Linked DNA regions of Homo sapiens. The protein of the gene in region 1 binds, or shares a complex with, the protein of each later gene. Each region holds a gene or a part of one and is shown in the gene's direction. Other genes may lie near its edges.

Region 1 (4,184 bases):
GACAGCACTGTAGGCAGAAGAAAGAGCATGGGCTTCGGGGCACACAGATCTGGTGTGAGTCTCAGCCCTGCCCTTTGTTCGCTGTGTCCTTATCAGGAATGATGGCCCTCAATTTAGCCCCTGCTGTGTGCAAGCACTATGCTAGATGTTTACATGTCTCAACTCAAAATCCCCACAACTCCGTGAGGTAGACTGAATGATGACCCCAGGTTTACAGACGTGGAAAGATACTGAGGCATTAAATAACCTGCCAGTGATCCTAGGTCTGTCCGACCCAAGCCTGTGTGTTTAACCACCATATTCTACCTCCCAAAGGACTGTTTCTTCTCTATGTCGGGTAATCACACCTCTGCGAGGTGCTCTGAAACAGCATCTAAAGAGCTCCAGGTTTCTCTTTCTTCCTTATTTTCTGAGCTTCAAGGCCTTTATGGATTGAAAGCTGGAAGCTAAGAACGGGGCTGGATCTGACACTGGTCCTAGTGTTGGGGAAGGGCACTGTTGAGTGATGGGTCCCATCTCAGCTCTTCCTTCCCTCCCTTCCCTCTGCCCCATTCCCTCTGCCTGCTCTGCCCACCTATCTCTAGTAGGACTTCCCTGACCTTCTCCCTTTATTTCCCTGCTTTTTAGGGGAAAATTTGTCAATTATTTTTTGATCCCCAAAGAACTCTACATTTTGGAGCTTTACATGTTTATTTAGTACAACATATTTTAACTGTGGTGATAGAAATTCAGACTGTAGGAAGAATCACTCAGAATATAAAGTTCCTTTTAGTAGGACCCTCTCCTCTACTCGGCCCTTCTCCCCACTTCCCTTCCATGCTGGGCCGGCAGATGCCATGCTTCTGGGGTCTGGTCATTGAGGCAGATAACCCCCTACTTCAGATAACTTGGCTGCATTTTTTGTGTGGCTGACGCAGCCCCACCGGCTGTCTGCAAACTCCCTGAAACAGGATGACAGGCGGGTGTTTCTTGGGCACGTGCTGCGGCGCAGTCAGCTCCACTTGATGATGGGTTTGGATGAACGGGAGAAGAGGGGTGGAAGGGGTGTTGAGAGGGGAGAAGAGGCCAGGAGGACTTTAGATTGTAGTTACATATGCACAATCTGCCCGTTGTTTTAGGGACAGATATGATGCTGCTTGAGGACTACACGTCTGATGACAACCCTCCCTCTCACTGCACTTGCCCACCCAAGAGAAGGAGCTCGGTGACATTTGAGGATGAAGTGGAACAAATCAAAGGTTGGCTTCTGTGACTGATTGCTTCAAGAAAACATAGGGAAACGGAAAGGATCTTAGGACAATTCCTTGGCTCAGGCTGGCTCCCATCCCGGAATATATCAGGGCTCCATCCCTTTGCTCACTCCCTGGTTACTCCCAGCCCTGTTGGTCTCACCTGAGTCCTTAGGCACCCAGTTCTCAGAGCAAGCAGCATCGAAGGCTGGGCAAACAATGGCTGTCAAACTCCACACACACACACACACACACACACCCACACGTGTTTACACACACAGCCCAGATCCTGGGTGAGGTATGGTTATAACTGAACCTGCTTTCCCTGAGCCTCAGTTTCCTCCTGTGGAAAATGAGATAATGGCCCAATGAGTGTATCTGCTTTGCTGGAGGCCAAAGCTGCCATCTTGCTTGTCCGTCGCTCCTACAGCGGTGATGGCCCTTGGGTCCTGTGAGGAGAATGAGTTCTGCCGCAGCCCAATCCCTACATTTTTCTACTCTATATCTTCCCCGCTCACCCCCAGGGACTGTTGTTTACTCTGGAACTTGGAATTCGTTTCCCATCCAGACATGCTGATTAGGAGAGTGACAAGAGCCATCCAGATACCAATATGACTGGGCTGTGGATTTGGTGGAGTCCAGGGGCTGTCCGATGTAAGGAGGCTCTTCAGAAATGTTGAATATGGAAATAAATATGGCCTCTGTCAGAGTTTTAGGTTCATAATTAATCACATCTCTTCTCCACACCCCTCCCTGAGTTCAGAATGAATGGAGAGGTTGTTACAGAGGTCAGAGGTGGAAAACAGTTCATTCGCTTCACTGGCAAAGCAGATTATAGAACAGAGCTTGGGCCAGCAGCCTCATGGGCTTTATAATATATTGCCTTTCTATAGGAAAAAATGAACTAAATGCTCCCCAACCCCCCAGCCCACGTAGGGCCACACTTGCCCCATCAGTCCTGCTTTGTGAGTGTGGCAGCTCCAAAGGCACCCTCCAGGTGGTGCAAGAGCAAGGCACTGCCAGGGGGTCCTCCCCTGCCATGAGTGAGTGGCAGGGCAGAGAGTGGCTGGAGGTCCCTCCAGTCTTTCCCTCTTGGAGAGTGGGGTACAGGTTGCCTACTTTCCAGAAAATGTAAGGAGGAGAGGATAAATTGTTCCCCTGAAATGTCCAGAGAAAATAGGCAATGAGTTAATAATAACAGGGAACAGGGTGTGAAATTGAAGGGCTCCCCCCTCTCACTTCTGTTCGTTTTAGTTTAGGGCTCCTAATCCTGGGAGGGGGCTTGAACCTGTAATGTCACGTCCAACCTTGAGGTTCTGCATGGGGAATCTCTGAGCAAATATGGAGAGGAGAGAGATGACATTAGGGTTTGTGGAAGTTTTGTTACACTGCTTCAGGGAGCTCAAAGACCAGAATACTCTTTCAAAGATGTAAAAATGTTGATTAGCATTAGTAGAAAGTATTTATCAAGTCTTTTCTATGGGCCAGACATAGGCCAAACATCTTAGAAAGAATTATCTCCTTTAGTTATCACAGTAACTTCTTGGAGTAAGAGGTATCTTAATATCTTCTCTTTACAGATGAGGAAACTGAGGCTAGATTAGATACTTTTTCCAAGATTTCCCAGGTAGGAAGTCAGGGAGTCAGCTTTTGGTCTAGGAATGGAACTTTGAAACCCACGCCCTTAACTGCGGTTTGTCTCCCTCCCCGGGGTGGTGGAGCAGCAGCAGGCTTGTCCCCAAGGTAGTCCCCAGGCCTGGCTCCTCAGCTGACTTTTTTTTCTGCCTTCTCCCTCAGAAGCTGCCAAGAACTCGATTCTTCATGTGAAAGCTGAAGTACACAAGTCCTTGGACAGTTACGCAGCAAGCTTGGCCAAAGCCATTGAGGCCGAAGCCAAAATCAACTTATTTGGGGAGGAGGCTTTGCCAGGGGTCTTGGTTACAGCACGGACTGTCCCGGGGGGCGGCTTCGGGGGCCGCCGAGGCAGCAGAACTCTTGTGAGCCAGAGGCTGCAGTTGCAGAGCATCGAAGAAGGAGATGTTTTAGCTGCCGAGCAGAGATGAGGGCCTCAGGGTGCCGTGGGGCTGCAGCCTGAGAGGCTGGCCCGGGGAGGAGTTCCCATCACCGCCTGTGCCGCGGCCTTGGGAGCATGTCACTGTGTACAGCTGGCCACACACAGGGAAGGAGCAGCATCTGGTATGCAGCCACCAGGACAAGGACTGAAAATAATGTCTACAGTCCACAGCTTCAGCATTTCCAGAGACCACATGTGAGCTTCTTTTAGGTCCCAGTGATGGGACCAGAAGCATCTAAAGCAAAAAAAAAACCAAAAAAAAATCTAGAGATGTGGCTGTGGCTTTTTGGGAGGTGGGGCATGGGAGGACCAGAGACGAAGGGCTTGGAAGGAGACCCCCACATGCATCATTTCCTCCTCTTCACAGTGTGCTGGGAGTCCAGCCGTGCACTGTGCCAGATGCCTCAGGAGGAGAACCCTCCCCAGTGTACTGTGAAGGATGACACAGCACTTCTTCCTAATGACACGCGACCGTCCTGGTGCCTCTACATGGTTGATGCGGGCAGTGTGGGACCCTCAGTTCTAGGACTGGTCCGCAGAGAAAGCACCCAGGAGCAGAGCGCTTCGGAGCGGTCCTCAGTGGCGCCACCTGCTGGTGCTAATAGGGACAGCCACAGGCCTCTTGCAGACTGGCCCACCCTGCCTACTTCCCTACTGACAAGTTCTTTGGTATTTCAAAAGGGAGAAACCACTATAAAAGACAAGAGGAAGGGCAGGTACTAGGTGTTTCATTTCCAGAATTAAAAAAAAAATCCATTTAAGACGTACCACTGTTTTACCGGACTGAATGGGACTGTAGTGCCAAGCACAGCCAGGAAATAGAGAAACTGTTATTATGGAAGGGAATTTGTTCACATGGGAAAGCCTCATTAAATAGATTC
Region 2 (3,500 bases), on another chromosome or scaffold:
GCCAGAATCAGATTTCAGATTTGTACACAAGGCCTGAAGCTCGCTCACCTCCCTGTCATCTGTGTTTCTGAGATTCTCCGGACCTGCAGCACTTTTACTTAAATGGCCCTGAGGGGATTCCTGGCAACATCTGTCCCCCCTCCCCACCCCAGACACCCCCCACCACTAATGAGCGTGGCCCCTCTGAACTTCCCCAGCTCTTCACCCAATGTAGAAGAGCAGTGGTGCAGTGACCTGTGAAAGGGGCTTCACGTAGGAAGGGGGCGAGATGGGATCCTTCAGCAGGTGAAGGCCCAGAAGTACACAGACATTTATTCAGAAAGAATAAATTTGTAAGTATAATTCTTTGAGAAAGGAAAGACCAAATGATTTGTGGAAGGCCTGTCGACAGGCCCGCACTTGACCCCACCGTCCGTCCCCGCCCCCCACCCCTGCTGCTCCACTGACTGCCCTGCCCTGCTCGTCTGCTCGTCTGCTCTTGCTAATTAACCTCCCTTCGCCTTTCCTCTGCCTTAACTGTCGTGTTCTAGTCTGGAGAGATTATATGTTTTAATTTCTACTCCAGTCTATGAATTGGTGAATCAGCCAAGTGAATGCTTCAAAAACTGGGACTCTCAAAAGATTAAAAAATATATATATACAAACCGTGAAAAAGATAAACTCTGTCCCCTCCATCTCCCATTGGTTTCTGCCTCGGTGACTCCCCCCCTCTTGGCCTCAGTTTCCCTGTCAGAGAGGCAGGACCGTAGCACCTTTTTTCCGCATGACAACGCCCTCACCTCCCAGGGCCTAACAGGTACAGCAGGTGTGCTGTGTGTGCTGGTTCCATTTTTGGGCTATAGACCTGATGAGATACATACTCCACACAAGAGGCCTTTTCTTGCCCTCTAAAAACATAAACTCGAGAACCTTCCCTGGCTGTGCTTCTAATGAAGGCTAGTTTCTGAAAAACATACAGCATTTGGATCAGTGTAATGTGGTACAAAAATTAACATTCTGTTATGGTCCCCAGAAGCCAAAGGGTGTGTCCTTTACCTGTGGGACCAGTGACCCTGAATATAGATCATTCCATAAAGACCACGCAGGCCATCCCATGTGGCTGAGTTAAACTCAAGGAAAAGCTACAAAACCTTCAACCTCTACTTACCAGAGGGATCTGACCTCCCCTCCCCCTTAGATTATAAGGCCTTCTAGGGGGTGGAATCTTATTTGATTCCTATTGCACATGGACCAACATGCACTAACATCATGAACTAGAAGTTTCATTGCTGCTAGCTGCAGTGCCTGGAGCATCGCACATACGACTTTTTTTTTTTTTTTTTTTTTTTTTTTTGACAGAGTCTCACTCTCGCCCTGGCTGGAGTGCAGTGGTGCCATCTCAGCTTACTGCAACCTCCGCCTCCCGGGTTCAAGCAATTCTCCTGCCTCAGCCTCCCTAGTAGCTGGGATTACAGGTGCATGCCACCATGCCCAGCTAGTTTTTTTGTGTGTTTTTAGTAGAGACGGGGTTTCACCATGTTGGCCAGACTGGTCTCCAACTCCTGACCTCAGGCAGTCTGCCCGCCTCAGCCTCCCAAAGTGCTGGGATTACAGGTGTGAGCCACCGCACCCGGGCTCCTGTAATGAACTATTATAAACACCACCACCTGTGCTCACTGGTTCTCTCAGTATGCTAGCAACTGAGTTAATTCCAAGTCAAACCATGGGACTGTTTTGTTCCACCCCAACCTCATAGTGACCTATCACTCCAGCCTCACCCCTACCCAGATGTTGATAGGACCAGGAGAAGCCTTTAGGAAGTGTTAGTATGTAGTGTGGGGGCTTCAAACCCATGAAAGATTAAATGAGCTGCATGCAACTTCTGGTACAGTCATGATTGCTAAGGCAATTTGCTAATCTGCCCCGATTGGGCGTGTCCTCAGGGCACATTTGGGAGGTTATAATTTGCAACTATGTTTATTCAGCTACCTCCAATCTTTGCACAGATCCGAACCCACAACTCCCTGAAGAACAGAATACTATGCTTTTTAGTCGGGATGTCTTTATGAAAGCAGTACTCCTAACTGACATGGTGCAATATGATTTTCTTTTCTTTTCAATCCCACTGCAGTGAGAAGGCAACCAAAGTGCAGGACATCAAAAACAACCTGAAAGAGGCGATTGAAGTACGTGCTGGCTCCTTGTGCTGTCTGTCTTGTAGCGCCCTCCCAGCCAGTGCTGTTCCCTGACCGCTTTGCTAAATCATTTTCAGACCATTGTGGCCGCCATGAGCAACCTGGTGCCCCCCGTGGAGCTGGCCAACCCCGAGAACCAGTTCAGAGTGGACTACATCCTGAGTGTGATGAACGTGCCTGACTTTGACTTCCCTCCCGTAAGCTACACCCCGACTTGTGTGGCCTTAGCCCCGCCCACCTGAGCACAGTGTCCATATAGGAACATGAGTGACAGCCCTGCACATGGGCAGGAGCATCCAAACCACACTTCAGGCAAAACTACATTTCAGTGATGTCCATCCTTAGGAAAAAGTTAATTTCATGTGTAACCTTAATTTAATAATAATAATCATTAGGGCTTTGTTCAAGATGGATGAGCAAAATTCTGTCACCCCTTCTACATCTTAGCTCACCTGTCCTCACAAATAAACATCACTCTTGAATACTACAATCTCACTTTATTAGATTGTAAATTTTTATGAGGAAAAAGGTCCTGAGCTATGGCAGGCTTAATTATTCCCTCATTCACATCTTAGGACAAAACTGTATGTTAAATATGGCACACAAATACTAATTGTCCATTTACTCCACTGGAAGTGCCCTAAGGTACCTTGGGATGCCTCAGTGAAGTGCCAAATGGAAGACATTCTCATTTTAAACAGGTGACCTTTTTATTAAGAGTTTTCTAAAGTCCTTGGGGCAAATGAAATCTTTTCTCATTATTAAAAAAAATGAAATATATCTAAATCATAACTCAAAAATCATAAAATAGAACATATGGAAAAGACTTTCCTCTGGATGCACGACACTGTTGGCTCCCTAAAGAACTACTTTTAGGGAACAAAAAACTGTTCAAGCCCAAGCATATAAGTTTAGGCCCCTTCGTGGGGAGAATGGCTTATAAGCGGGGAACGGGAAACGAGATGGAAAGATGTATGCGTTTGTAAGACCCACAGGGAAGAGACTTGTCTACAGCTAAAACAATGAGTTATTGTTGCCTTTTGTCAGGCTTTCGTGGGAATTTGTGTTTGTATATTTTAGATGGACTTGGCTGCAAACTTAAATTGGAGAAATTTAGTGGTATATAGTTAGTATGGATAGCTAAACTTTTTAAATAGCATTATTTTGAAAAAAAAGCAATAAACACAATATGTATAATATAACCCACTGACTTTCTTGAAATATGATTCTATATTTAATAGGAAAAGGAAACAGCAGCCTATTAAAAATGTATCAGAACAATAACTTTTTATTAGTCCTACTAACATCTGAACTTTTATGTTCCTA

Evidence for each region. The genes of interacting proteins can lie anywhere in the genome.
Region 2: the proteins of GPR161 (region 1) and GNAS are in contact, whole or in part, in a cryo-EM structure (PDB 8SMV), measured with the Homo sapiens proteins. Residues at the interface, in NP_001254539.1 of Homo sapiens: Arg125, Ala128, Val129, Leu130, Pro132, Met133, Met137, Ile211, Val214, Ala215, Lys218, Ala219, Lys267, Ala268, Thr271, Ile272, Trp327; in NP_000507.1 of Homo sapiens: His41, Lys216, Val217, Phe219, Phe376, Cys379, Arg380, Asp381, Ile383, Gln384, Arg385, His387, Leu388, Tyr391, Glu392, Leu393, Leu394.

Annotation. Positions count from the first base shown.
Region 1 is NC_000001.11:168,084,639-168,088,822, reverse strand, and holds part of GPR161 (G-protein coupled receptor 161), read left to right. Parts: intron 1-1,118; coding exon 1,119-1,238; intron 1,239-3,026; coding exon 3,027-3,292; 3' UTR 3,293-4,184. UniProt on the Homo sapiens protein: Key negative regulator of Shh signaling, which promotes the processing of GLI3 into GLI3R during neural tube development.
Region 2 is NC_000020.11:58,901,421-58,904,920, forward strand, and holds part of GNAS (protein GNAS), read left to right. Parts: intron 1-2,107; coding exon of another isoform or gene 2,108-2,110; coding exon 2,111-2,165; intron 2,166-2,251; coding exon 2,252-2,371; intron 2,372-3,500. UniProt on the Homo sapiens protein: Guanine nucleotide-binding proteins (G proteins) function as transducers in numerous signaling pathways controlled by G protein-coupled receptors (GPCRs).